2 separate regions of the Homo sapiens genome follow, and region 2 is linked to region 1. Evidence: fine-mapped expression QTL. Tissue or cell type: ileum. Region 1 holds a variant in brackets; the other region holds the start of a gene. All regions are shown on one strand. Distances are from middle to middle.

Evidence for each region. PIP is the estimated chance that this variant, and not a neighbour inherited with it, causes the effect.
Region 2: FRS3 starts here. The variant in region 1 is fine-mapped to the expression of FRS3 in ileum (GTEx, PIP above 0.99).

Annotation. Positions count from the first base shown.
Region 1 is chr6:41,956,115-41,958,794 of GRCh38, forward strand. It overlaps a transcript of CCND3 not described here. Among named protein-coding and RNA genes, the nearest start is that of CCND3, 16 kb to the left of the region's middle. The variant T/A (reference allele first, on the strand shown) is at 1,438.
Region 2 is chr6:41,778,575-41,781,254 of GRCh38, forward strand. It overlaps FRS3 (fibroblast growth factor receptor substrate 3), which reads right to left and starts at 1,326. Exons shown (of 7, transcript NM_006653.5): 1 at 1,242-1,326. PRICKLE4 (prickle planar cell polarity protein 4) reads left to right here and starts at 2,208. Exons shown (of 8, transcript NM_013397.6): 1 at 2,208-2,252. RefSeq lists silencers at 1,052-1,201, 1,232-1,641, 1,922-1,991.

The DNA.
Region 1 (2,680 bases):
AACCCTGTCTCTACTAAAAATACAAAAATTAGCCGGGTGTGGTGGTGGGCCCCTGTAATCCTAGCTACTTGGGAAGTTGAGGCAGGAGAATCACTTGAACCCAGGAGGTGGAGGTTGCGGTGAGCCAAGATTGTGCCACTGCACCCCAGCCTGGGCGACAGAGCGAGACTCCTTCTCAAAAAAAATAAAATAAAATAAAATAAATAAATAAACATAAACCAGGAAAGTGCCAAACATGCCAGTTCAGTGGGCAGAACTAGGGCCTTTAGAAAGGGCTGGGAAAGACCATGAGGTGCTGGCTCCGCCTCCATTACCAACCTGGCCAGAACTTTCCTAGTACTAAGCAAGGCTGATCCTCAACGTTCTAAAGGTAGGCCATCATATTCCCACCCTGCTTGCAACTTACACATGTTTATGTATGGCACCATCTTTCTTTAGTCCTCAGATTTTAAACCCTTTACAGCAAAGAAGAATGGATTTCTCTGAGGAATCTGATAGCATGATCTAAATCTGATTGCCCTCTGCAAAACTGAAATTTATTTGAAGTCTAAATATTCTGCCTTAGAAACCTATATACATCTTGGATTCTGGCCCTTAAGATAGCCCTAATTGTTGTAATATAAAACAATGGTGGCCAGGCGCGGTGGCTCAAGCCTGTAATCCCAGCACTTTGGGAGGCTGAGGCGGGCGGATCACGAGGTGGGGAGATCGAGACCATCCTGGCTAACACAGTGAAACCCCGCCTCTACTAAAAATACAAAAAAAAATTAGCCGGGCGTGGTGGCAGGCGCCTGTATTCCCAGCTGCTGGGGAGGCTGAGGCAGGAGAATGGCATGAACCCGGGAGGCGGAACTTGCAGTGAGCCAAGATCGCACCACTGCACTCCAGCCTGGGCAACAGAATGAGACTCCGTCTCAAAACAAACAAACAAACAAACAAAAAACAATGGTTTAAGTTACTAAAGGAAAAGTTAACTCCACACAAACAACTGGCAGAAGGAGTTTTCCTAGGGGTTTTCAAATCCTCCGTTGAAAGGCTGGGCCTATATTACTGTTGCAAAAGCCTCCCAGAGAGCCTCATCTTCACATTGCTTCCAGATAGATCCAAATCAATGGCCCAAGGCCATCTGATTAATCTCTCACAGACACTCCTTTCGTCTTCAGTCCAAGGACCTGCTTATCAGGTTAAATTTAAAAGACAACCAGCCTGGTTTTCAAAATTGCCTTCAAGAAGAGGCCCCAGCAGCCCTAACCAATTTTATCTCAGCCCTAGCACTCCAGCCCACCTCTGGGCCTTATCACCCACCGCTGGCATCCTGCTTCTTTCTCCAAATCCAGCCTCTTCCCTTAAGGCCTAGCTCCTGGCCCATCTGTTCCATGAAGCTCGCAGGGTGTGGAATTGAAAGATCACAGAAATTTAGGGCCAGAAGGATCAATG[T/A]CGCTTAAGGGCACGCATCCACTTAATGGTTGTTGTAAAGTATTCTCCTTGTTTCCTGTGAATAAATCCTGTTTTCTCCCAAAAAAATGGAAATTCCTGAGGGTAGGCACCACATCTTTGTAGTTCCAAAGGTTAACCTGCTGGAAGAGGTACCCTGCATGAAGATGTGTGCTTTGATTCCTGCCTCTCTGCTCAGGCAATTCCCCTGTTTGGATAGTCTTTCCCAACCTGTTGTCAGCCATTCACAGTTCCAGATTCCTCTCATTGTAGGTTATTTGCTTTTTCATTTCTATTTATTTTTGTTTTTTAAAATTTTTTGCAGAGATGGGGTCTATGTTGTCCAAGCTGGTCTCGAACTCCTGGCCTCAAGCAATCCTCCTACCTCGGCTTCCCAAAGTGCTGGGATTACAGGTATGAGCCACCAAACTTTACCTTACTTTATCTTTATCTTTTTTTTTTTTTTTTGAGACAGAATCTCTCTGTCACCCAGACAGACAGACCAGTGATGCAATCTCAGCTCACTGCAACCTCCACCTCCTGGGTTCAAGTGATTCCCTGCCTCAGCCTCCTGAGTAGCTGGGACTACAGTTGCAAGCCACCATGCCCAGCTAATTTCTGTATTTTTAGTAGAGACGGGTTTTCACCATGTTGGCCAGGCTGGTCTTGAACTCCTGACTCCAAGTGATTCGCCCACCTTGGCCTCCCGAAGTGCTGGGATTACAGGTGTGAGCCACCATGCCTGGCCTACTTTTTCATTTTTAAATTGTCATTAGGGTTGTTACAGCATGGAGCAAAAAATATATATTTACATTTTTAGCAAAAAGCCATACTTCCCCCAAACTCGAAAACCCCTGCTAGGTGAGTCATTCTATTCTGTACAGTAGAATTTGTATTATTCATTCACTTGGTCCACAGAACTTTATTGAGATCCTATCAAACACAAGATATACCTGGGGCCACAAACAATACAAAGACAAATAAAACAGTTCTTTTCTCTTAAAGAGAATATAGTCTCCTGGGGGAATTTAGATGTGCTTTGCTTTCCTTCTTACTAATTTACCTTTACTTGATTATTTAATTGACTCAAGTATGTGGGTTTGGGGCTTTGACTCATCATGTGGCCAGAAAGTTCCCTGAAATCAGGAATTGAATCTTCTAATTTTTTTGGTATCTAGGTAGGGTAAGAATATGTTCCAGTTAATGTCAGTCTTATTGGCATATTTCTTAATGGTGCACCCTTTCA
Region 2 (2,680 bases), 180 kb before region 1:
TATATCGGTCAGTTTTGTTGCTACTAAGTATCTGGGAGACTTAAGTCAACGCCCCCCCCAACTCCCACCTAAGGCCTTAGTTTTTGGGGGAACCATCTATAAACTGGGGAGCTTCTAGCTTAAATAACTTGCAGAGGTAAAAACGTAAGACAAACTTCACTAAAATTGACATGTTCATCTTCCAAGACAGGCTGCTTCAATTTCGCATTTGGAAGCTTGATAGATTTTCTGCTCCCCAAGCTCTGAAAGGCCTAATTTTAACATAAATGTTAACAGTAAGCCAAAATTTCAGGATATCTGAGCCCAAGGTAGACAAGTCAACAAGCCAGGACTCTGCAGACCCTGGACATCCCACATTCCTGCTCTGGAGAAACACTTCCCAGGGCCCCTTGCACCCTGCATCCTTGGACAACTTCCAGGTAAAAGGACCCCATCCCCTTGGTCTGGCTTATTTTCTGGAAGGAAGAAGCAGGCTCAGGGAGGTGTGCACAGACTAAAGATAGGTTGCTGGGAAAATACTGGGGCTTGAGCCACCGACGGGGGCACGGCGCGGGCACTGAAACGAAGAACTCTAGGGTGCAAGATGGGGGAGGGGCTGAATTTCCCTATCACCATCTCTTCTCCTTAAGATATCAGGATGTATCAGATAGCCCACTGAGGAGGGACTGCATTGAGTGGAAATGGGGAGAGGCCTCTGGTCTGGGATAGGTATGGATCAGGGGCAGGAGTGAGAGGGGGGTGTGGGGGCTGAAAACGTATGAGGACGTTTGGGGAAACATGAGCAAGAATTTTGGATGTGGGCATTTTGGATAGTGCAAGGAGAATGGGGATATGAGGGATCCTAGGAATTTCCGGGCAGTGGAAGCATTTGGGGGCATCCAAGAGAAATGGTGGGTCCGTGGGCATAGCAGGAGATTTGTTGAGTGAATGAGGGGGTTCTGAGGGCTCCAGGAGATGCGATGATGTGTCCAGGGCGGAGAGGGTAGAGGTGGGTTGGGGGAGCCAGAGGCTGCAGGACAGGCTACAGGACTGTCAAGGGGAATTTCTACATGCCCGTAAGGAATGAGGAGGTCTGGGTGCGCGCTGTCCCCGGATCCCCGCCCCCAGCCCCGGTGCTCCGCCGCCTGCCCGCCCGCCCGGGGCTTCCTAGGGAGGGAGTGGAGACTGCGGCGCGGCGCGGCGCGGCGCGGCGCGGCCTCGGTGAAGCCGCCTCGTCCCCGCCCCGCCGCGCCCCGACTCACATCGCCCCGCGGCCCGGGCGGCGCCGGGCCCCGCTCCCGGGTCCCGCTGCAGCAGCCGCCGCCCGCCCGGAGCTAAGGCCTCCCCGCCCCGCCCCGCCCCGCGGCCGCGGGGTCGGAGGTCACCGGCAGCACCAACGAGACGCTGCGGGCTGGCGGACCCGAGCGGGGGCGACCGGCACGCAGCCTAGAAGGTCCCTTTGGAGGACTTTGCAGTCGGGAGCAGTGAGCATGCGCAGACGCCAGAGGGCGCTCCTGGCCAGGGGCTGAGCAAGCCCGGAGGGGACAGGGCGGAGCCTGCGGCGGAGGCGGGGCGCGGAGGCGGGGCTGAGGACACCAAAGTTGGGGGTGGTCCGGGGAGCGGAAAGGGGACGGAGGGTTGGGCGAGAAACGAAGGGAAGGGGAGAGGGTCTGAAGGGACCTGAAAGGAGAAGGGCAAGACGATGGAACCTGGAAGAGGGTTGAGGGGAGGGGAAGGGGCCAGGGGGACCACTGGGGACAAGGGGGAGAGAACTGAAGGGAAACACGCGGAGGAGCGGGGCTGGGAGACCACAGGGAGAGTTTGGGGAGACCTGGGAACTGCGGAGAGACAGGGCTGCGGGCCCGGCGAGGCGTTTCCATTCAGCGAATGGTTGAAAACCCAGCGTAAACGCGGCTCCCGGCGTCTGCTGGATGCCTGCCGGGCGCAGTCCGAGCCAGAGAGCCCTTGCACCTGCATGGCAGAGGCCATGGAGCCCGCACATTTCCACCCTGAGATCCCATAAATGTGGTTTTGTTTTCCTTTTTTTTTTCCTCCCCCCAATCTGCAGCTCCAGGCCCCTCCCTGAGCCGCCCCTCTCCACCAGCCGGGGAGGGGCGGGCGGGGGCCGCTGGGGCGTGGGAGAGGAAGGGCCGCGCTATTAGGGCGGGCGGGGGCGGACGGGGGCGGGCGCTGAAGCCTTGGGGTGGGGACCGGGTGAGGGGCCTGACGGCAGAGTCGGTCCAGAACTGCCCGGACAGCGACGCACAGCGAGGGTGAGACCCCAGCGGAGTCCTGGTCCCCTCCCCTAAAATCCCAGCAGCCAGACCGGGAACCCCAGCGGACTCGGGAAACACCGCGTCCCAGCCCCGGAGGCGGGCCCGCCAAGTTCCAGAAAAACTCTGGGGATCTATCGAGAGGGCAGTTGGCGGGACTGGGCACTCCCCTTCCTTCTCCCTCCCACTGTCCCCAGAAATCTTCCCATCCCTCCACCTCCCCAAGCCCTAAGTCCTCTCGGGCTCTGCCCTTCAGGGCAGCGGGTGTTGGGGATGTCCAGCTCCTGAGCCCTCTTGCACGGAGGCTCTGCACGGAGGCAAGACAAGGGGTTCAGCTCTGTCCCTTATCTGAGGTGGGAGGGGGAAGGGAATTATGGAAGGAATCCAGCTGGCCTGTTAGTAAGGGTGTTCCAGTGCTAGGTGGAGGT